3 separate regions of the Homo sapiens genome follow, and regions 1 and 3 are each linked to region 2. Evidence: fine-mapped expression QTL. A gene starts in region 2. Each other region holds a variant in brackets. All regions are shown on one strand. Distances are from middle to middle.

The links. PIP is the estimated chance that this variant, and not a neighbour inherited with it, causes the effect.
Region 1: its variant is the best candidate, but not a certain one, in a credible set for the expression of PAPOLA in whole blood (TOPMed, PIP 0.69).
Region 3: its variant is the best candidate, but not a certain one, in a credible set for the expression of PAPOLA in aorta (GTEx, PIP 0.77).

What each region holds. Positions count from the first base shown.
Region 1 is chr14:96,518,222-96,526,403 of GRCh38, forward strand. PAPOLA (poly(A) polymerase alpha) reads left to right here. Exons shown (of 22, transcript NM_032632.5): 2 at 1,834-2,007; 3 at 2,785-2,851; 4 at 7,089-7,170. Among named protein-coding and RNA genes, the nearest start is that of PAPOLA, 20 kb to the left of the region's middle. The variant G/T (reference allele first, on the strand shown) is at 4,913.
Region 2 is chr14:96,498,635-96,506,816 of GRCh38, forward strand. It overlaps PAPOLA (poly(A) polymerase alpha), which reads left to right and starts at 3,748. Exons shown (of 22, transcript NM_032632.5): 1 at 3,748-3,966. The coding sequence starts at 3,959. It overlaps PAPOLA-DT (PAPOLA divergent transcript), which reads right to left and starts at 3,692. Exons shown (of 1, transcript NR_122121.1): 1 at 3,014-3,692. RefSeq lists enhancers at 2,453-3,049, 3,050-3,644, 3,562-3,821, 3,645-4,240, 5,396-5,897 and 1 more and silencers at 3,160-3,503, 3,942-4,061.
Region 3 is chr14:96,576,767-96,584,948 of GRCh38, forward strand. No RefSeq gene overlaps it. Among named protein-coding and RNA genes, the nearest start is that of PAPOLA, 78 kb to the left of the region's middle. The variant C/G (reference allele first, on the strand shown) is at 3,865.

The sequences.
Region 1 (8,182 bases), 20 kb after region 2:
AGTCCAGCAGCTAATTAGTAACACGCAGTATGGGCTTCTTGGCATTCTTAGATCTTTCTTGATATCACAAGACAAATTACAGAACAGTCTAGCCGTTGGAGTATAGACCAGAACCCAGTGGATTTGTTCAGTAAATGTATCATAAGCCTTACTTGCATAGCATTCTTAGATTTAGCACTTTATTGCTTTTTGCTTTTTTTTTTTTGAGACGGAGTCTCGCTCTGTCCCCCAGGCTGGAGTGCAGTGGTGCGATCTCAGCTCACTGCAAGCTCCGCCTCCCAGGTTCACGCCATTCTCCTGCCTCAGCCTCTCCGAGTAGCTGGGACTACAGGCGCCCGCCACTACGCCCAGCTAATTTTTTGTATTTTTAGTAGAGACGGGGTTTCACTGTGGTCTCGATCTCCTGACCTCGTGATCCGCCCACCTCGGCCTCCCAAAGTGCTGGGATTACAAGCGTGAGCCACCGCGCCTGGCCTTTATTGCATATGTAGATTATCACACTTTAACTTAAAGTAGAAATTGTATTTAGAACTTGGTAAAAAAAAGTAGCTGTGGTTGGGCATGGTGGCCCATGCCTGTAATCCCAGCACTTTGGGAGGCCAAAGGGAGCGGATCACTTGAGCTCAGGAGTTCGAGAGCAGCCTGGCCAACATGGTGAAACCCTGTCTCTACTAAAAATATAAAAATTAGCCGGGTGTGGTGGCATGCACCTGTAGTCCCAGCTACTCGGGAGGCTGAGGCAGGAGAATCGGTGGAACCTGGAAGGTAGAGGTTGCAGTGAGCTGAGATCGTACCACTGTACTCCAGCCTGGGTGACAGAGCGAGACTCCATCTCAAAAAATAAGAGGTAGCTGTGTGTGTGTGTAAAATACACTTTTTTTTTTTTTGGTAGAGACAGGGTTTCAGCATGTTATCCAGGCTGGCCTCAACTCCTGGGCTCAAGCCATTCTCCCACTTCAGCCTCCTGAAGTGCTGGGATTACAGGGGTGAGCCCACACCTGGCCTATAAACACTTAATTTCTTAAGGAATGGAATTTGGGAGAAATAACCGATCCAGATTTTGGGTCTTTCCTTATTGTGTACTTGGTTTTGTATGTTATTCAACTGTTAGTTTAAAATTATTATGTTGACTTCTTAATTTAATGAAAAAATATTTATGAAAAAAGATTGAGTCAGATTTATTTCCTAAGCATTTAAAGCATGCTATGCCTTTTTACAAATTTGGAACTTATCTTAAAATGGATAAAATAGCTGTGTGTGTGTAAAATAAACCTTTTAGACTAGCATCATTATCGAAGTGTAAATCTCTTAAAAAGATCATTAACAAGCTTAAGGTATATTCACCCTAAGGGAAAGAACTATATTCAGTTCTTTCCCTTCAAATTTTGTTTAAGTTTTTGCTATTTGCTTCATTATCTATGAACTTCGTTCATTGTAAGCCAGATGCCAGGTTTCATTTGGGGAATGTCTTATATTGGTAAAGTAGCATTTCTGTAGCGTGTTTATCAATGTTTAAGAAACAGATTTTGGCTTCTTTTCAAGAGGTGAAATTTCTCAGAAGTTTACTATATTCTGAATTAGTGTTTTCTCTAGCAATGTATTTGGTCTGGATTCTAACTTAGATGTTTAAGTAGTGACAGTTAAAATCCTTGGGGCAGGATTTTCTCTTTGGTCACTTGCTTTTGGTCACTTTTTGTCAAAAATTTTGGGGGTATTGCAGGGAACCAATCATGTTTAGAAATGTGTGTTACTAAATTAGTTTTTCTGGTCTTACTGATTTGTTTCAAATTGTAGAATTCTTTTGGCAGTAATTGTATCCAATTTTGTTTATAGTCCAGTTACAACACAGGGATCACAACAAACACAACCGCCACAGAAGCACTATGGCATTACTTCTCCTATCAGCTTAGCAGCCCCCAAGGAGACTGACTGCGTACTTACACAGAAACTAATTGAGACATTGAAACCCTTTGGGGTTTTTGAAGAGGAAGAGGAACTGCAGCGCAGGTAAATAGATATTCTATATTTTTTTAACTCGGAAACTTTTATTAATGTTGACATAAACTAATTTTGAGGCATTCTCTACTTACTTAGAAGACCAGGGTTATTTGCCCAGATCTATATATCTGTTTTGGAGAAGAGGGATACTTAAGAGAGAAAACTTTTTGTTTTTGAGACGGAGTCTTGCTCGTTACCCAGGCTGGAGTGCAATGGTGTGATCTTGGCTCACCACAGCCTCCGCCTCCTGGGTTCAAGCGATTCTCCTGCCTCAGCCTCTCGAGTAGCTGGGATTATAGGTACCCGCCACCACGCCCGGCTAATTTTTTGTATTTTTAGTAGAGGTGGGGTTTCACCATGTTGGGCAGGCTGGTCTCGAACTCCTGAGCCTTGGTCTCCCAAAGTGTTGGGATTACAGGCGTGAGCCACCGTACCTGGCTGAAAACTTTTATTTTCTACATAGAGTTCTCTTCCCTTAATTTTGATGTTATTTATTTTTTTTTCTGAAGAATTAATTTTGATTTTTTATGCTTTTGGTTATTATAGTACTGAATTGTCTGGAGAAAAAGGAATGCCTTACTCAGTGTAACAGTGCCTGTATATATATATAGAAAGAGAGAGAGAGAGAAAGCGAGAGAGAGAGCGAGCGAGCGTGCACTAACTACAATATACTGTGCTTCTGATTGCTTAAAAACTCATAATTTAGGAAGAACGCCTATTTAAAACTTTAAGAAATTTAATCAGTAATGATCTGGAATACTTGATTGATAATTGTTTTATCAACAGGATTTTAATTTTGGGAAAACTAAATAACCTGGTAAAAGAGTGGATACGAGAAATCAGTGAAAGCAAGGTAAGGCAACTTTTTTGTATATGAAATAATTTCATATATAGCCAACTGAACACAGCAAGTGTCTTATATAACCTGTTCTTATTTGAGTGGATTTGGAGTCTTTAATGTGGAGTCAATTTTAGACTATTGATAACAGATTTTACATTATTTTTCTAGTTAATTTGGAAGCAGGAAAAACTGAACTGAGTTAAGCGATTTTTAAAAATAAGTATAGTACTCTTTGTTTGGAACATTTGAAAACTGAAACTCAGTAATTGTAAAGTACTTACACTCTTCACAGAAATAATGGATGTTTCTCTAAAAAGGTGCTTTAAACATATTTGAGACTCTTCTTACCTTTTAAGAAATTCTGCCACAGTTAGTTTTTAAAAAAGATTTTCAGGTATTATTCAAACTGAATATTTATTTATTTATTTATTTTTTATTTATTTTTTTTGAGACAGGGTCTCGCTCTGTCATTCAGGCGGAGTGTAGTGACACCATTATAGTGCACTGTAACCTGAAATTCCTGAGTTCAAGCAGTCCTCCTGGCCTCAGCCTCCCAAGTAGCTAGGACTATAGGCATGTCCCTTCACACCTGGCTAATGGTATATGTGGAGTCTTGCTGTGTTGCCCAGACTGATCTCAAACTCCTAGCCTCAAGCAGTCCTCTCATCTTGGCCTCCCAAAGTGCTAGTGTTCCAGGCGTGAGCCGCTGCCCGGCCTATTTAGTTTTCTGTAATAACATTCTTTGGGTTTCCTTTTTTCTTTCTTTATTGAGACAGAGTCTCACTCTGTCACCCAGGCTAGAGTGCAGTGGTGCCACTGCAACCACCACCTCCCGGGTTCAAGTGATTCTCATGCCTCAGCCTCCTGAGTAGCTGGAATTGCAGGCGGGCGCCACCATGCCCAACTATTGTTTTTATTTTTAGTAGAGATGGGGTTTCTCCATGTTGGCCACGCTGGTCTTGAGCTCCTGACCTCAAGTGATCCACCTTCCTTGGCCTCCCAAAGTGCTTGGGATTATAGGCATGAGCCACTGCATCTAGCCTCTTTCTTTCTTTCTTTTTTTTTTTTTTTTTTTTTTTTTGAGACAGTCTTGCTCAGTTGCCCAGGCTGAAGTACAGTGGCACCATCTTGGTTCGCTGCAACCTGTGCCTCCTGCGGCCAACTGATTCTCCTGCCTCAGCCCCTCAAGTAGCTGGGATTACAGGTGTGTGCCACCATACCCAGCTAATTTTGTATTTTAGTAGAGATGGGCTTTTGCCACGTTGACCAGCTGGTCTCAAACTTTTGGTCTCAAGTGATCTGCCCACCTCGGCCTTTCAAAGTGCTGGGATTACAGGCGTGAGGTACTGTTCTGTCCTCTTTTTTTTTTTGAGACAGGGTCTCCCTCTTGCCCAGACTGGAGTGCAGTGGCATGATCTTAGCTAACTGTATCCTCCACCTCCCGGGCTCAGGCAATCCTCCCACCCCAGCCTCCTGAGTAGCTGGGACTATATAGGTGGGCACCACCAAGCCTGGCTAATTTTTTGTAGCGATGGCTTTTCACCATGTTGCCTAGGCTAGTCTCGAACTCCTGGGCTTAAGATATCTGCTTGCCTTGGCTTCCCAAAGTGCCAGGATTACAGGGGTGAGCCACTGCCCCAGCCCCTTTGAGTTTCTAACACTTCATTATGAATACTCATACATACAACTCATAAATACATGGCTGGGCTTCTTCTGGTAGAGAAAATGTATTTGTAGAGTTGTGTGTGGAGTTCATTTGACCCATTTAAAAAAATAACATAAATAGTGGTAATTTTTCCAGGGTAGTACAAAATCCGTGTTTAATCTATAATATAACTGAAAGGTTGAAAAGAGAACCAAGGGTAAAGGAAAAATTTCATAGAGCAGGGAGACAGGGTGTCAACTTAAAAGTTGTAGTCTTTTGGTTTTAATGAAATTTATAGTACTGTTTACTTATGCAGTGTATATGTATATTTCAAAATACAAATTAAACTTCAGCAAATGTAGTATTCTAAATTATGGACTTTACGTACCATGTGTTTCTTACTGATTTTAGTTTCTGATAGAAAATAA[G/T]ATTTTTTTTTTGGTTTGTTTGACATCTAATACTCTTCACTTAAAAATGAAAAAAAGATTTTGCAAGTGAAAATGTTTTTCCATGACCTGAATTAAGAAATCTTAATTTCTGGGTTACAATGATGATAATAAGTATAAACATACTAATATCTAAAAATGTAGTTTATAATATACTAGTCACTAGTCACCAGCCAGGTATTTAAATAAAAATTAAAATTAAACATTCAGATTCTTGACTACACTAGCAACATTTCAGGTGCTCAACAAAAGTGATAACAGTGACAGAATATTTACATCCTTGCAGAAAGTACCATTGGAGAGTATTCTTCAAAAGATTGTTATGTCTTAATAGAGAAGTCTGTGGACCAGTGTTTTAAGATAGTTTCTCCTTCACCTCCTTTGTAGGCTACTTGTGCACACGTCTTGCTGGCTAATTTTAAATAACCAGGTCAGCGTTGCCATTGAGGTTTTAAAATATCTAAACATAGGAAGACAAAGGCTTTGCTTACTTTTAAGAAATACAACATTACAGCCAGGCGCAGTGGCTTACGCCTGTAATCCAACACTTTGGGAGGCCAAGGTGGGCTTATCACGAGGTCAAGAGTTCGAGACAAGCCTGACTAACATGGTGAAACCCTGTCTCTACTAAAAATACAAAAATTAGCTGGGCGTGGTAGTGCGCGCCTGTAATCCCAGCTACTCAGGAGGCTGAGGCAGGATAATGGCTTGAACCGAGGAGGCAGAGGTTGCAGTAAGCCGAGATTGCGCCCGTTGCACTGCAGCCTGGGTGACAGAGCGAGACTCTGTCTCAGAAAAAAAAAAAAAAAAATTACACACATAACTTGTCTATTAGTGTCTATAGTGATGGTTAAATATGCTCTTAAAAAACAGGAGTCTCTGACTGTTTAGAACTTGGCTTTAGGGTTTTTTTGGAGTATGAAATAACACTTCATTTTATGTCCTTTTTCTTTTTTTTGAGAGGAAGGGGGGTGGTCTTTTACATGTTTTGGTACTGAATAGATATTTTATTATACTGAGGAGTTAGGTAAAAGGAAATATTGACTAAACACTTCATAAAATTGTTTTTGTTTGGACAGACCTTGTCATTCTTACGAGCAGGGCCATTGAATACTAAACCGTAAAGCTTGGGACTTTACACTAGTGCCAGGGCCAGGAAGGCAGTTTTTGAATGCTTTCTCCCTCTTCCTGATGATGCTACTCTTTCTGAGTAAGAAAAGAAAATTTAGTTGTTTCTAAATTACTTCACTAAAGCCTTTTGGAAATCTAAAAAACTAAGCAATTATTTACCAATATTGGCTTTTTCTTCTCTGCTCTGCTGTCCCTTTCCCCTTCCCGTTCCCCTTCCCCTTCCCTTCTTCCCCTCTTCCCCTTCCCCTTCTCTTTTTTTGAGACAGGGTCTGACTGTCGCCCAGGCTAGAGTGCAGTGGCGTGATCATGGCTCACGTAGCCTTGACCTGTAGGACTCAAGCAATCCTCCCACCTTAGCCACCTGATTAGCTGGGACTATATGTGCATGCCACCATGCCCAGCTAATTTTTAAAACATTTTTTGTAGAGACGGGGTTTCACATGTTGCCGAAGCTGGTCTCAATCTGGGCTCAAGCAATTGGCCCGTCTCACCCTCCCAAAGTGTTGGGATTATAGGCGTGAGCCACTGTGTGTGGCTACTATTGGCTTTCAAGTCACTTTTGATATGATAAAAAAAATACTCTAATATGTTGTGGGATATTTGGTAAAAATCGTTGAATATAATCTTTTTCTTTAAAGCAATCAGAATATGTTTTTATTATACTCTAAATTGGTGATTCATTTTATATACAGCATCTTTGTCATGAATAAAGTCCCCGATTCTAACGTGCTCCTGTGGGATTACATGATCTTCTCAATCACAGTCTTCTTTATAGTAGTTTCTAGAAATAGGGCAAGAATCTAACAATAAAGAATAAACCTCTTTAAAAGTTGAAAATGGTTTGAATTTCAAATATGATTGATCTGAGGGGCTGGTATTTTTTAAGAACTTTTATAGACTTTGAATACCCTTTATATAAATTTACACTGTAATCTTTCTTGGATCCACTCCCTCACCCCAGTATAGTATCATTTGAATAGTTTCCCTTGTGCTCCACTGGCAAAATAACCATTTTTTGTTTCAACAGAATCTTCCACAATCTGTAATTGAAAATGTTGGAGGAAAAATTTTTACATTTGGATCTTACAGATTAGGAGTGCATACAAAAGGTAAGTATTATTTCATTTTTCTTAGAAAGGGACCCTTTAGTTCTTAAAAATTATGACATACCCGTCTCAGTTACTTGTGTATCATATAGCTTAGGCTTGCATGGAAGAGAGAGTGCTTTGAGGAGTCTAAATTTTTCAGTAAGAAAGATGTAAAATAATGCTGACTTCTATATCGCCACTGTCCAAAAGTATTATTAAGATTAAATGAAATTAGCTTAGTGTGGTGACTCATATCTGTAATCCTAGAACTTTGGGAGGCCGAGGCAGGTGGATTGCTTGAGCCCAGGGAGGTCAAGGCTGCAGTGAGCTGTGATTGCATTGCTACACTTCAGCCTGGGTGACAGAACAAGACCCCGTCTCAAGAAAAAGTAAATAAATAAATTAAAAACTCAGAGTTTCAGTAGAGGTAGCCACATTTTATCTGTTCAGTAGCCACATATGGCTAGTCGTTACTGCATTGGAAAGTACAGATACAGAGTAGTTTTTCTGTTGGAGAGCTCTTTTGTACAGTGCTGCTATCTACATATATATCATTTTCCCTCACCAGAAGAATATCACTCTGGAAATAGAACAAAAATGAATTCTAGCTTTTAAGAAAACTCATGGATGCCCCCCGCTAATACCTTTATAGACAAATTATAAAATATAGCTAAGCAAAAGCAAACCCCAAAAATGTGTATTCATAGCCAATGATAATCAGTTAATAGTTTATACTTGTAGTTATTTCCTCTATGCAAATAAATACACAATAAAAATGTTACCTCGGCAAAGAACATTTATTGAGCTTCTTTTCTTTCACTGAGTACTGAGATCTTCATTATCTTATTTAGTTCTTCCAGTACTGTTATTCTCACATAACAAACAGGAGCCTGAGACTAAAAGAGGCAATAAAGCTTGAACAGTTTTTCTCAACCTTCTAGTGGCAGAGTAGGTACAACTCAGGCATCCCGAGGCTGTACTGTCTTTGGGTCTTGCTCTGTTGCACAGGCTGGATGCAGTGGCACAGTCTTGG
Region 2 (8,182 bases):
GTGATCCACCCGCCTCGGCCTCCCAAAGTGCTGGGATTACAGGCTTGAGCCACCGCGCCCGGCTTTCTCTTCCTTATTTCAAACTTCATTTCTCATCTGAAGGATTGCAAGAGCCGCCTCACCCATCTTCCAGCTTCAAAACCTCTCCTAGTTCAAATTCATTCCTTACACTTTCAGTCATCTTTCCAAAAATATAAATGTAACCTAACTCCTGTTTTAAAACTTTCAATGGCTCCTCCATTCACAAAAACAAAAATTCAAAATCGCTCAGAATTAACTTCAGGTCTCAGCTCAAAGGTCAGTTCCTCTGAAAAGCCTTCTCTATCTGAAGTTGGCCTCCACCACAACTCTAATGCCTGGTTTATTAATGCCGCTTATCACCATCTATAATTCCTTTGTCTGTTTATGGAGTCATTATATGATCTCCCATCTCCCCCTACTTCCTTTATTTTTGAGACATGGTCTCATTCTGTCACCCAGGCTGGAGCGCAGTGGCATGATCTTGGCTCACTACAGCCTTGACTTCCTGGGCTCAGGTGATTCTCCCACCGCAGCCTTCAGAATAGAGGACACAGGTGTGCACCACTATGCCCCTTATCTTCTGCCTCTCACTTAACTTTGCAGCTTTATTTTCACCACTCCTCACTAAATATTTTGTGGTTTAGTCACTTCAAAAGTTTCCCTTTCTCCAAATAAATTATTTGCACGTTTTAATTTTTATTTATTTATTTATTTATTTCTGAGGCAGAGTTTTGGTCTTGTTGCCCGGGCTGGAGTGCAATGGCACAATCTTGGTCCACTGCAACATGTGCCTCCTGGGTTCAAGCGATTCTCCTGCCTCAGCTTTTGAGTAGCTGGGATTACAGGCGCCCACCACTATGCCCGACTAATTTTTGTATTTTTAGTAGAGATGGGGTTTCAACATGTTTGCCAGGCTGATCTCCAACTCCTGACCTCAAGTGATCTTCCAACCTCAGCCTCCCAAAGTGTTGGGATTACAGGCGTGAGCCACTGCGCCCGGCCTCATTTTATTTTTAAAAATTGTTCTCTTTACCTGAGATGCCCTTCTACTCCTTCTGTCCACTTACCAAACCCTAACATATCAGGACGTGTCTGAAGTGACCTCTTACATGAAGTCTACCTTGACTCCATCCTCAATCCTCAATATTGTTCCTTTTAAATGCCTTAGGCAAGTAGCGTGATATCTAGCACATTCTAGGTACTAAATATTCATCAGCTGTGCTATCTAGCTGCCTCATTCTATGGAAGGCTGAAACAAAAATAGTTTGAAGCAATTATAGACCAAAAGCATGGATGTTTAGCGTCCCTCTCTTCACTGCCTTCTGAGATGCCTGGCAGAGGACAACATAAGCTGAAAAAGTCCCCATTCTTTTATTCATAAAGTACATCGTTAGTGCATTTTTTTTTTTTTTTTTTGAACAATGTCTTGCTCTGTTGCCAAGCTAGAGTGCAATGGCATGATCAGGGCTCACTGCAGTCTCAACTTCCTTGCCTCAGGTGATCCTCCCAACCTCAGCCTCCCAAGTAGCTGGGACTACAGGTGTGTGCCACCAAGGCCAGCTAATTTTTTTGATTTTTTTTTTTAGTAGAGACAACGACTTGCCACGTTGCCCAGGGTGGCCTAGAACTCCCGAGCTCAAGGAATCCTCTGCCTCCCAAAGTGCTGGGATTACAGGTGTGAGTGAGCCACTGTGCCAGGCCCCAGGGCATATCTTTACAAGCTGCTTTGAAGTCCATAGCCTTAATACATTATTGAATTATCTGGATCTCAGATTTTCAGTCTTTTAGGGACAACTATGCTACTGGGTCTCCAGCCAAAGCCACCTTGATGACAAGAGGAAAAGAGACTAAATGGAAGAAATGACAATCAAATATAAGTCTGTTTGCAGATCAGCACTATTTAATGGAAATGAAGGCCACATATATAACTTAAAATTTTCTAGTGGTCACATTTAAAAAAACAGGTAAAATTAATTTTAATAGTATATTTTCTTTTTTTTTTTTTTGAGACAGGATCTCGTTCTGTCAACGCAGGCTGGAGTGCAGTAGTGAGATGACGACTCACGGCAGCCTCCACCTCCCACTCCAGGGATCCTCCTACCTCAGTCTCCGGAGTAACTGGGACCACAGGCAGGAACTACCATGCCCAGCTAATTTTTTTTTCTTTTTTCTTTTTTTTTTTTTTTTTTTAACTTTTTGTATAGACGGGGGTTTCCCTATATTGCCCAGGCTGGTCTCTAACTCCTGCCCAAGCGATCCTCCCACCTCAGCCTCCTAAAGTGCTGGATCACAGGTGTGAGACACCGTGCCCGGCTTACATTTTCTTTACTGCAATATATCCAAAATATTTCAACGTGCAATCAATATAAAAAGTGATCAGTGAGGTATTTCACATTCGTCGAACTGACACCCGTGCGTATTTTGCACTTCCAGTGCCTCCTAAACGAACTAGCCTCATTTCAAGTGCTCAGTGGCCCTAAGTGGCCAAGGGGCTACACTAATGGACAGGGCAGGTCTAGGTCCTGTGTTTTTCCCATTCGGAGTCACCAGTCCTACTAGACATTCTGTGAAAAAAGGGAAAGCCTTTGTGAAACTTCCTGAGGACTCACAAATGCACATTATTACATTTAGAGTTTAGAACTTTGGTTAAGGCAGCGTCCTGTATTTGATTCTTTCCCTCTTCCTCTCCGCTAACCCCCTATGTGACACCGTAGAACTTATAATTCGTTCTAATTCGCAGATGGAGGGCATATGAGAGAGGAGGCTCTGCCTCAAACACTTTCTCAAACTTTTGCCGAGGGGTGGCGAGAAGGTAGACTTCCAGGTCCCACCCGATATAGATTAAGGGCTGGAAACACAGTCAAGGGGAAATTATGACCAAGACAACCTTTGCTAAAATGCCAGCGGTGACTGCCATTGATGTTCCTATAAAAGGTCAGCTCTGTCAGGAAGTTCCAGTGCATCATTTGTTCAAAAGTAAAATCAGCCCGTGTTCCAGAATTCGCGGACTGTCGTCAGTCCTAACCTACACATTTATTCGTTCAACAAATATTTCAGCGCCTGGGTCAGGCATCAGGAATACACTGGTGGTTAAAACAGACGGAAAGCTCCATCTGGTGGGACGCAGTCTGGGAGGGAAAGGGAGTCCTGGGGACATGTTTTCGTCGGCTCTAGGCTAAGCACCTCTCGCCGTAGCACACGGGGTCGGCACCGCTGCCCGGCGAAGTACTTGTTACTTTGCAGTCCAGTACGAAGCGGCGGAGTAACCGGTTCCAACCCAAGGCAGCGACTCATGCGAGTCGTTCTAAGCGCCGCGCTGGGGGGTACATACGGTGCACGCGTGGGTGCCTCACCCCCTGGCAGCGCCTCCAGGGACGCTGCTCCGGGAAAGAGCAGCCGCCGCGACCTCAGGCGGCGGGAAAGGTGGGACCTCACAATGCGCCGGAAGCGGTGCCTCGTGGCTTGGGATCTCTCCGGGTTCTTCCTTGCGCCGTCCACGCCGCACTGCCCACGAGGGCGTCCCCGCCCGAGGGACAACTCACCGCCCGGGGCCTCCCTGAGCGTTCCCTTCCACCATCTGACACCCACTGCTAAGTGTGAGAGGACCCAGGGGGTAATTGCCGGGCCGCAGGCGGCCTTAGGAACTCCGCTTCCCGTGAGGCTTCGCGGCGGACGGCGCTGGTGCGCAGGCGCACGCACGGCGTGCGTGGTGGCGTCAGCAGTTCTAGAACGTTGCTGTGGTAGCGCTCGGGCGCCATGTTAGGACGAAGGGGAAGGAGGAGAAGCGCTTAAAGCGGCGGGAGCGGTGCGGGAGAGGGGTTGGACCCAGGGCTGAGGCAGGCCCCCCCCTCCCTCCCGCCTCAGTGGATCATGCCCAGGGCGGCAGCGGCGGCGGTTGCGGGGGGGAAGTGACTGGGCGGTGCCGGCGCCGGAGACGATGCCGTTGTAAGTAATTTGTATTCTGTTTTCTTTCGCTCGCCGGCTGGGCCTTGGGGGGCGTCCGGGAAGGGGAAGAGGTAGGCGGAGAGGGTGGCACGCGAGCCCGACCCTCCCCGCTGGTAGGAGGCAGGCAGGACTGGGGACCTTCCTGTTTCCTCGCTCGCTCGCCGCCGCACTTCCCCCCGTGTGCTGGGTTCCCGCGTCCCCCGACCCTTCCTGGCTGGGTCAGCTGCCGTCGGGCCGGGGGCCTTCCCCTTCCGGAATTGCTGGCGGAACCTCTAACTCGCCCGGCCACTCCAGCTTCTCCGCCCCGTCCACAAAGAAAATCAAAACAACCCGAAAACAAAACATTGCCTGGTGGTGGGGAACCACGACCCTGCTGCACGCGGGATCAGCACTTGGGGTTCGGGCTCGCTCTCGGCGCCCCTCGGGCCCATTCGATGTTGCTTTTCTGTTCCTGGTCTGTCTCAGTTTGCTCACTCTCTTCCTCCCATTTCCAGATGCCTGTCTTGTGCGCCGGAGTTAGCCCCTTTCCACTGACCTTGTCTGAATGTAGGAGCACGAGTTAAAAGCCCAGCTTTGAGCGTTGAGTCCGCCTGCCTCCACCTCCGCCTCCCTAGCATTCACAGGCGGTCGGAGAAGGGGGCACTTCACAGGGTGCCCTCCTCCAAAACGACTTATGTATTGCTTTCCCTGTTTTGTTTTGATGGGGTAACCAGGTTTCATTCTGTTTCCTTCTTTCTCTATCTCTGGTGATACTTTTTTTTTCCTGGTTGTAAGGCTTGAAGCTAGTCTCTTTATGCTTTCTAATGCCACTGCGCCTTTTTCTTTTCTTGGTGGGTTTTTAAAAAGTTTTTTTCTCCCCTCCCCCTTTCTGATAATGAGATATAATTTGGCAGCTCATTGCCAGTAGATTACGGATTTTTTTTTTCCTGCAAATATACAGCATTGTAGAGGCCTAAATAGTGAGACTGCATTTCTTCCATTTTTGAATATTGAAGCGTAAGAGTGCCTCTTTGAGACCAGGGACCGAGTTTTCTTCATCTTAGTAGCCTCAAAACGCAACATGTAATTGACACTCAAAGTTTTGGTTAAATTCAGGATAAAGATTTTTGTGGTTTCTAGACATCGAATGTAGTAACTCAGGTCTATTTTTTTTTTGTAAGTAAGGATAATTTCTTTAGCACATAATCACCGATTGTAGTTTTACAATTATATATGTGTGTGAATGTGTTTCTTTACAGGTGAGACTCTAACTTTGGCACAGACCTTAATGACTTCTATCGCAATTTATGTATTTTAAAAGGATTTTCCATGGCTCCCACCCACCCCCTTAGGTTATTAAGAAGTCTATCACATTACTTCTGTGATGAAAACGTTTGTTAGACTTAACTAACTATACAGGTCTAAAATCTTGGAATCTGCATGGTTTCTGTTTATTGATTTTTCCCTTTCATAGAATAAGAGACCCTAGGAGAACTGAGTCTAAGCAAGATTGTTGTGGTGTTTCTCAGTTCAATAGGAGATAAATGTTTGCAGTGATGTCGTGATGACTGCGTTATTAAGTTAACATTTTGCTGTCTTTGAAAAGGGACTTCTTTTTCTGATAATCATACCAGCATTAAAAATGATAGATGTAAACCTTAAAAGGCTTCAATGAAGAAATAACATTAAGTAATTTGTGTCTTATTTCTAGGAATTAAAAGTACTTTTATACCTACTTTCCCCCAACATTCTTTGAAGAGGGAAGGTATACATTTCTGTGAAAGACCTTAGGTATTTCAAATTCTTCGCGAGTTAGTTCAAGTGTGTAAAATGGAAGACGGGGCCAGGCGCGGTGGTTCACGCCTGTAATCCCAGCACTTTGGGAGGCCCAGGCAGGTAAATCGCTTGAGGCCAGGAGTTTGAGATCAGCCTGGGCAACATGGCGAAACTTCATCTCAACAAAAAACACAAGTTAGCTGGGCGTGGTGGCTCATGCCTGTAATCCCAGCTACTTGGGAGGTTGAGGTGGGAGGACTGCTTGAGCCCAGGAGGCTGAGGCTGCAGTGAGCCTTGATCATGCCACTGCGTTCCAGCCTGGGTGACAGAGCGAGACTCAAAAAGTAAGTATACGATAATTACTGTAGTAAACAATAGAGAGACCAAAGAATGCCTAGTTAAAGAAAAATAGGGCTTCTTCCTCATTAAGTTGCTTTGTTTTTCATGTACTGCTGTCACACTGTCATAAATGTTGTTTTTTTGATGTGTTGGATTGTGATTTCCCGGCTATATTGTGTTTGGCTTTCATTTTTGGTATACCTGTCCTAATGTTAAATTTGGATGGGTGAGTGGCATTGGGGCATGGACCCTAGGTGAGTTGTCGGAATGAATTTAAATCAAAATTATCGAAATTTAGGATATTACAGAACATTTTGATCAAGTGTCCATATTTTGTCTAAATTTCATATGTAGCTACAAACATACTTTTGGAAAGATTATAGTCTGATTTAAGAGTCATGGTGGTGAAGCTTCTGAAAGTTTTGATAGTCTTTGGATCCATTAAACAGTTTCTCACCTAGTCATTATTGACATTTATGCCAGATTCATTCCTTGCAGGTGCCTGTCCTGTGTATTGTAGTTTAACAGCAGCCTTAGCTTCCACCTACTGGATTCCGGGAGCTCCACCCCTCCATTTCCCCAGTAATGACAATCAAAAATGTCTCCAGATATTACCAGATGTGCCCTGGGGTGCAAAATCTGGTTGAGAACCACGGCATTAACGAAAAGTGTGATGCCCTTATGGAAACTAGATGTATTTCTGCCCTACTCTGTGTTGGTCAGATATTTTTGGCATCAGCTCAGTTCTGAGTATCACACATATGATAAAAAGGTGTGAAGGAGAGTAACCAGTATCAGTAGCATTTATGCCACATGCATAGAATGTTGTCAAAGTTACCAAAAAGAGTTACTGCAAGGTTTAGGCGAGACAATAGCAAAAATGTTTTCGGGGGCTGCACAAAAAAGAGGGAATTGTAGTAGTTTTACATCGCCATAACAAGCAGAACTGGTACCTGCTGGTGGATGGTCTGTGCTTCCCAGAGCGGGATCTGTGGATGCTTGGGGAGGGGGACCACTGAGATCTTTCAGAGGGTACATAATGTTCAAACTATTTTCATGTTATTGAGATGTTTTGTCTTTCAACATTTGTACTTAACGGTGCAAAAGCAGTGGTGGAAAATGCTGTATCCATCATAGGAACAATCAAGGCAGAGAACCGGTATTGTATATAGTCATTTCCTTCCTTCCTTCCTTGCTTGATTCCTTCCTTCCTTGCTTCCTTCCGTTCTTGACGGAGTCTTGCTCTGTCGCCGGGCTGGAATGCAGTGGAGCGATCTCGGCTCACTGCAACCTCCACCTCCCGGGTTCAAGCGATTCTCCTGCCTCAGCCTTCCAAGTATCTGGGACTACAGGTGTACGCCACCACGCTCAGCTAATTTTTGTATTTTTAGTAGAGACGAGGTTTCACCATGTTGGCCAGGATGGTCTCGATTTCCTGACCTCGTGATCCCCCCCCACCTCGGCCTCCCAAAGTGCTGGGATTACAGGCATGAGCCACGGCGCCCGGCTGTCATTTTATTTCTTGAAGACTGCACACTCATAGTTTAAAAAGCTTTTGATGAAACAGTAAAAGGAGGTTAATTTTATTAAATCTTGACACTTTGTTTATTTAATGTACTGTGACCACGGAAAGTACTTGTGAAGCTGTATACTGGGGAGTAGAATGGTGGTTTTGAGGAGCACTTGTATGTTGATTTGTGAGCTAAACTGGTGTTCTCATGGAGCTCCATTTTTATCTGAAAGAACAAGTGATGAACTGTGGATATTCATATTTGAGTATTTAGGAGACTTAAATGAGAATAAAGCAAGTCTGTCACTCCAAGGTAAACAACTGACTATTCCTGGCCAGTGAAAAATTGGAGCTTTCAAGCAAAATATAGAATTTTAGAAAGCTTGCTTTTCCATCATGAGCTTGACGGTTTTTCCCAATACTTAAAAGATGTTTCTGCTGACATTGGTGGTAATATTAATGCATATAGTTTTAATGCTGTATAATGTGTGCTTAAAAAAAGAATGTTTTTTAATATTTGGTAGACCTGTATAATTCAGTGAACCCATATTTTCCAAATGACCATTTGTGATGTAATAAAATCATATGTGCATTCAAGGGTACATTCAGAGT
Region 3 (8,182 bases), 78 kb after region 2:
AATAGCCCCTGTCCTTATGAAAGCTTATAGTTCATAGGAGATACAGATGCCGACAACACAAATGAACTGTAAGTTACTAGTGGGCTCTGAACGGAAATAAGAGTGCTTCTGGAAGGTTAGGAGCACCCTTTCAAACTGGACAAGCTTTGACCTGAAGACTAAGGTGGTGCCGAGTGAGGGAGCAGCATGTTTCTTAAGCAGGAAGGAGCTTGGCAACTGCAGAGGAACAGGAAGGTGCTGGAGTTTTAGAGCTTAGTTGGGTTGAGAGAGATGTAGGTGCCCAGATGTATCACAGTGATAGAATAAGAGGTCCAGAAGTGCTGAGGGAGCATGCAGCTTCCTGGTGGCCTTGGGGAGGATGTGGGAGAGCAGGTGCCATTTGATGGGTAGTTTGGCTGTGATCAGGAAACAGAGCAGAGGAGACAGCATGCTAAGTGGAGTGAAGGGCTTGCACCAGGGCACGGGGCAGGAGAGCATGTCAAGGTCAGAGAACAAAGCAGCCAGCAAAGCTAGTGTGTGACTGGGTGGGGCGGGTGGGGAGCAGTAGGTTAGATGTTACTGCCCTATTGAGAAAGATCTTGAGGCTCAGAGCAGCTCAACATGATTAAGATGTGGTCCAGGTTCTTAGTGGTGGTAGAAGCTAAGTAAAGGAGAACAAAGAGCGCACACACACACAAAGACCCTGGGCTTCCGTCACTTGTGCTTGTACCTGGTCCCATATTCCCATATTGGAGACTTGTACCGTTGCATACTTGCTCTCGCACCTCCCTTCCTTCCAGATCCAGCTTCATGCTGGATAAAAGAAATGTTTACATCCCAAATAGGATGGAGTGGACGGTGCCAGATTTCACACTACCCAGAGGGCTGCACAATTTACTACTTATAAGTTGTTTATTTCTGGCATTTTCCATTGAATATTTTCAGACTGTGGTTGGCTGCAGGTAACTGAAACCACGGAAAGCAGAACCATGGATAAAGGGGATTACTGTACTACAAATTCCAAGGTCCTGATAGAGAAGTCTCTTCATTAGGGAACTAGACCGCTTGCCTTAAAATGCATTTGGCTTGCAAGGCGGGTGCGAGGGAACGATATGTCACAAGCTAGCAGAGGCTGTGGGCAGTGTGCCCTTTACGTTCTGACACGCGTGGGGGCCCACATCTCTGCAGAGTCCTCCCCTTGAAAGCCTTTTAGTCCCTGACATCCATCATTGTGGGGGCTCAGCTTGGCTGAGCTGAATATTTATGAGTCATTATTTAATTAAGCCTTTCATACTTTCATTGATAAATGCAGTCACCCCTTGCCCCATTAGTCCCCACCACCACCTTGCAGCCCACAGCCAACTTCCAGCCCAGGCGCTGCTCCTCATTCTGTTCCTGGCATGCTGTTGACTGCCCTCCAGTGTCTACCACCCACTGGAGAGAAATCAAGGCCGGGATTCCTTTCAGTGCCCCCAGTATGTGGAGGCAAAGAGAGACATTTGCACTGACCATTGGTAGATGCTATAGTTTGACCAAACGGCCCCTATTCCTAGGTGTTTGGCAACTTGTAGCCCAAGTGGAAGACGGGAGAGAACAACCCAACAGGCATCTGGGGAGGTGCCTGTTCTCCTGACGCTGCCTGTCTGTCTGATGGTTCTATTAACAGCCTTCAAGAAGGATGAAGGGGAGGGTACAACAGTGAACAACAAACATCTCAGTCAGGAGAGGAATTTCAAGACGGGGTGGGCCTGGGTGGGAAGAGGAGAAATGAGGACAAAGCTTTGGAAACTTTGCTAGGAAGATGTAATGGGAATGTGGCCCGAGGTGAGGCTCACACACCTGGCCCCTGCGTCGTCAAGAAGCACCGCACAGGAGGTGAGGGTGCTTCTTCCCCACCCGTGGACAACTTGCCTAGCACCTTGGTTTCTGAACTTAAGCCACTTGAGTCCACTTGCAGCAGTACTTGGGGCCCCAGCCTGTCCCTTTCACTGAGAATCTGGGAGTCTGGGCACCTGGGGGTGTGGCAGTCTTCCTGGAGTTGGAGTGCTTTCCCATGGCAGCCTGGCCTGGCATGTCCAGTGACGCACTGCTCCACATGCTGCCCTCTTCTTCCTGGCTATGCTCTGGGTTAGGCGCCAGAGGGAGCGGGCATCTCTTCCCTGGAACCTGGAGCAGCAGGTAGGAAGGGAGGATGTGAACCGTGTACGGCAAGCTTGTTTATTCATTCAGCAGCACCTCCTGAGCCCCAAGTGCCTGGCATGAGTTCTGGGTGTGTCAATGAGTTAGCCGAAGCCTGTCCCCTCTTCCACTTGCCACGACGTGCTCTTCTGTGTGCGTGGAAGTTCTTGCCCCAGCATCTCACTGCTCACCTCCTGTTGTACTCAGCTGGGTTTCACTCATCCCACAGGATATACCTTAGATATCATCATCTCTGAGAAGTCTTCTGATCCCTTAGGCTGGGTTAGATCTCCACTCCCAAAGCACTCTGTAGCTAAATCTCTTAGCACTTACCATATTGTGGTATTGCCCGAGTTGGGAGCAGCTCTTGCAAAGCTGAGGCCGTGTCTTGATGCATGTCTGTAGCCACAGTGCATGATGTGTAATAGCTGCTTGTCAGTGTCTGTGGAAATTCAGTGAATGAAGGACTTGACCAAGTTCTTCCCGAGGAGCTCCCAGTGTACCAGTGGAATATGAGCTCATGTGTATTAAGACTTCATGGTCTAAAGATTGTGCTAAATGCCTTACGTGGACTATCTCACTGAATCCTCCCAACAATCCTTTGAAGCACGTATTACAGTTCCCATTTTCCAGATGTTGAAACCGAGGCACAGAGAAATACTTGTCCAACGACCCATGGTGCCAATTGCAATGATGGGAATGTTTAAGGGTGATGGGACAGAGAAGAGGGGCACCTGACTGTGTGCTACGCACTGTTTGGTACTATGCACACCTCTCATCTAGTACCCAAAACAGCCCTGCAGGACTGCTTTTGTTACCTGGAACCTAAGAATTCAGAGAAAGTCAGTGACTTGTCCAAGGCCACCAGCTGGGAAGCAGTGGAGCCAAGATTCAAACCCTATGTTCTTAGGCAGACAGACCCCAAAGAGAGGACTCTCGGGTATCATAGCTTGAACGCTAAGGGGGCCCCTCGAGGCAGGAGCTGTGTCTGCCTGTGCTCTCTCCCACTTTACTGGAAAGGGGCTCTGACATGAGAATTCTGTTTTATTTTTGAGACAAGGTCTTGCTCTGGCACCCAGGCTGGAGTGTAGTGGTGCAATCACAGCTCACTGCAGCCTTGACCTCCCGGGCTCAAGTGATCCTCCTACCTCAGCCTCCAGAGTAGCTGGAACCACGGTGCACGGCACCACAGGCCCAGCTAATTTTAAATTTTTTCTTTTGTAGAGACAGGGTCTCTCTTTGTTTCCCAAGCTGGTCTCAAACTTCTGGGACCAAGTGATCCTTCTGCCTTGGCCTCCCAGTGTTGGGGTTATAGGTGTGAGACACCACACCTGGCCTGACATGACAGTCCTGACTGTCATTTGCTGAATAAACCATGATAGGGAGCCCAGCTAATTGGGATGCACTAGTAACTGGACAGTCCTCTCAGATCTCAGGGGCCACTGTCAAAGCCCTTTTCCTGGATTAAGACTCATGGCTGGTTACCCTGAGTCTTCCAGTCTACCACCTCTCTGGCTATGGCAGGTTTTGCAGAATAAAGTGACTGAGGCTTAACAAGTTTGTGAGTGTGGCCAAAGCCAGTGTAGCATAGGACTGGACCAGTGCTGGTGAAGGAAATTAAGCTGTAACTTGTGGGATTTCAAGAAACCAATCTTGGTCTGTAAGTCGTTTTTATAAAAATGAATATGCGATCACTGCCCTAACTCT[C/G]GTTTCTTTAAACGGATGCCAAGAGCATTCAAGGGAGAGCAATGCCAAATTTACATTCAGCTTTAACAGTTTGTCCTTCCGAGGAGCACAGGCTGACTTTAGAGTAATTCCTGTGATCATCACAAATGGAGTTGGCATTAAAAAGGGTGAAGGGAAGACTCAGGAAGGAGGACAGACACTCCGTGCTACACGCGAAAGCTTGTTTATCTGGAAGCCTGGCTTGCAGTTCCTGCATCCCTCTGGAACCCAGCCCTGAATCTCTGAACCGAGCAGTAAGTAGAAAAGGCTTCTAGGCTCTGGGAAGAAATGTCACACAGCCCATGCACCAAGGTCACGCCCTGTCCTCTAGGTGCACAGCAAAGGTCTTCGTGGCTGTCTCCTGTGTCATTTGTGGTTAACACTCGACTTATGTGCCGGTTTTCACAACTCACAGCAGATTATCCTAGAGGCCTGTAACTTCAGCTAGCTTCAAGTATAGCAGGTATGACACTAAATGTCATCACATACCTGATCGTTTTTACTCCTCACAGAAAACAGGCCTTGTAAACTGTATTTCACAGATGAGGAAACTAGTTCCCTTAAGAGGTGTCTAGCTTGTAGGCTGCATGTGTCTAGTATAGATAACTGCTGTGCCGACGATTTGCTAATTGCTGTGGGGGGATGGGCACGGGAGAGCTTTTTGGCCTCAGTGGACGTTTTAAGAGATGCACACTTAGAACCACTGGAGCTGTGTCCAGCTAGAGAAACTGTATCCATCGCTACAGACTGGTGAGGTTTTGCACATTTCTCCCAGAAAACCCGAAGGAAGGGGGTTTGGAGAGAGGAGCCAGGAGTGGGGCTCAGAGCAGAGCCGAAAGGAAAGCGCAGGGTGGGATGTGGCTCTGAGCTCTTCCACCCGCCCCGGGGACCTCTGAGATAATACCAACTGCACCCAGTTCCCTAGCCCACACCTGGCAGGTAGCACGTTCACTTCATGACCTTCTTGAATGCGCAGTGCCCCATTCTTTTGAGTTCTTATTACATGTCAAAGGCAAGGACCGTGGCTTCTCTTTTTGTCCACGCGGTACTCACATGGTCTTGATAGGACTGACCTTCTGAGGATCTCCTTGATCTTTCTTTACCTATATAAACAAAAATTAAATTTAAACACAGCTGTATTCGCATATGAACAAAAAACTACCATTAGGTGTTTGTCTCTCAGCAAATTATTTCTCCTCTCTAGGCCTCAGTTTTTTCATCAATAAAATGAGACCATTAGACCGAGGAGGAACTTCTGGCTCCAAAACCCTTTGGGTTCTAAGTCTTCTCTTTGAGAATGTTCTCCACTCCCCCAAACTGATTTGACATAATTTGGTCTCTCCTCCCATTCCAATGGCCTCTTTCCTGCCTAGTCCTTGCCTACCAGCCACGCCCCCTCTGGCATGCCCCACCCACCTTTCTCTGTTTGCTGCTCTGGAAGAGAAGGATCCTGGCTTCTCAGAGCCCTGGTGAATACAGATACTGCCTCGTTTGCATATTAACACTGGTGCCAGTCTGAGCCCAGCTGTGTGCAACGTAAGGTGAAATATAGATTCCCCCAACCTGGCCACAGTGTCTCCACGCGGCTAATGGAAAAGCCTTCGGAGTGGGCCCATGTTGCATATGCATAAGCTTTCCTTTGGCCGTGGATGGGCATTGGGTGCTCTTACTCCCATTTCAACTGTGTCTCTGTGCTTCTTTGGGTTTCCTTCAAGATTAACAGGCCATCTGGGCTAAACAGCTATTTGAAGTGACTTGGCCAGGCCCTGGGCTGGCCTCTTGGGAACTCTGGGACTTGAGTGTTGAACCCGAGCCCCGCCCTCCTGCTCACCCACTCAGCATGGCAGCAGCAGCTTTTATGTATCAGCAGCGACCTAGAACTAGGCCAAGCATCCCCTTCACCTCCTGCAGGATGAAGGTCAGGCTCCTCACACGGTGTCGGAGGTCCTGCTTCCCCTGCCCCTGGGCCCTCTGTTACACCCATCATCCCGTGTCCAGACTTACCACAGCTCCTGAGCAGGCCTGGTGTTCTCCTGCCTGCCAAGCCTTCGCACCTGCTGCTTCTTCTGCCCTTTGGGCGTTCCTGGGGGTGGGGGGTGCAGAGAGGAGGATCTAGGGCTCCCCTCTGTGTTCCTGCAGCCCAGTGTGTCTGCCTCTGGCACACACCTGCACTTGGAACTCACATCTGTCCCTGCTGGACCCTGGGTCCTCCCTGGGACTCTGGCCTCGCACCTGCACACAGTGGATGCCACCAAGCGAGGAAGGCTCAGGGCCAAAGCGTTTTAACCCCTTTACCGAGAACCTGAGTTGTAAGAACTTGCTGAATCTTGCTACATACAGATGCGGCACCTTAATGGAAATGGCTAAACAGAGAGAGGTTTTGCTGGTGAAGGTTTTTGTTGCTATTGCTGCTCCTGCCACTGAAGGCTTTCTCAGGAGGAAGCCCCTCAAACCACCCCCTCACCCTGGGAAATAGGAAGGTGGGCTGCCTGTCTGTGTGGCCAGCTCAGTCACTGGGGGGCGGTGAGCACAGTGGCCGGATGCCACTGCAGCCTCCCCACCTTCTCCCTGCCCTCCATCTGCCCCTGCCAGGTCTTCCAGGCACCCACTCTCTCCTTCCACTCCTCGATCGGGGTAGCTGGAAGAGCAGAGGGGCTAAATTGAGTTTATATAGCTTTCCCTGTATATATTTAGAGATAAGAAGTTCATTTAGGGATCAGGGGCTGCTGCTTCTCTATGCATCATTAAGCACACCACATCTGCTACTGAGCTAGCAATCAGCAGAATATTGAGAAAAGTTATAAAGAAATCTTTGCATCGGTTCATTTTCATTCTCAACTCCCTGTGTCCTGGCTCTCAGATTTCTGTGAGCGAGTGCAGGGGAGGAAATGGAGCCGCGGCTGTTGGGGCCATGCTTTGGGAGCTGGGGCTGGATTCAGATAATTCATCTTGGACCTGCTGTCTTTTCTCGGTGTGTGTGCCTATGTGCGTGTGTGTGTGCAAGCATGTGAGTGTGTGTTGGGGGAGGGCGGGTGGTGGTGTTGAGGAGATGGTCTATGGAAAGCTGTGCATGCATTGTCCCATGGTGGCCACGCCAGGAAGGGCATGTCGCCTGATCAAGTCCTGAGCATGTCGCCATGGCAGTCCTGAGCACTGTCCTGCAGGTAGGCTGAGGCTGCAGACCAGACTTAGGTGCCATCTCCCTAGATGACCTTGACCAAGCCACCTCCCTTCTGTGGTCCTCAGTCTTCCGGGCTGTAAAGTGAGGGCACTGGGCCAGGTGGTCGCGCCTTGCTGAGAGGAGCAGGGGGAAGGTGAGCTAGTGCAGCACAGAGCTGGCTCTCAGTAAAACCTGTTTGGATGCTGCCACTGTGGCGACTGGTGTTCTCTGGTCCCTGCTGCCTCCCCACCCAGCAAGTTCCCATGGCCTTGGCTTTCTTAGGTTGGTGGCTGAGTGGGGAGAGTCACAGGCACAGGTGCTGGGTTCTGGAGTCTCGGGGCTAGAAACTGTTGCCTTGTGGCCTCCTCCCAGAACAGCAGGTGGGTCTGCCCTCTCTCTAGCTCCTATACCAGGCCCAGAGAACTCAGTCTCCTCAGCCTCTCCCTGGGGACCCCTGGCAAGGGCATTGGTGGCCAGGTGGCCCAAGGTCCCTCAGCCCCCTCCCAGGGCAGTTGTCCCGCAGAGTGACATGTGGCAGGTTAAACTGCAGGTGTCACTGTTAGCCCTGAAATGGGGGCTTGGTTGGGCCGGCCTGTGGGCAGCCGCAAAGGAATCTTCCTGGCTTAGCGGCTTGGCCGGCTGAGGGAGCCCCGGAGCGGGCGCAGCACTCCCTGCTCTTATGCTTTGCCTCCCTGGCTGTGTGGACATTGCCCACCCTTAGCTAAAGCAAGGACGATACTAACTGACCACAGCCTGGCCCCAAGAAAGCACCATTTTCACAAGGCACGCAAATGGCTCTCTGAACACCTGTAATTAGAAGGAATGCTCAAAACCCGGACATTTGTGGGATCAGCATTTAACCTCGGCCAACCCCTCAGGAAGGAGGGGCGCAGGGAGGCTGAGTGCAGCCACGTCCATGCAGTCAGTGTGGCCAGCCTGGGGGGCCTGTGAGGACTGAGGGAGGGTGGGGACCCCTGGGTAGAAGAGGCCAAGAGCTTTGTGCTCTATTGAGGAAGCTGCAGAGGAGGAGAGACCCAAATCAACATGGGGTGTTCATGCTCTGTTCCTTGTACCTCGAATGGTGGCACTCTTGCCCTCTAGACATTGCTAAGGACTTAGAGGTTCAGGAGTCACAGGCAA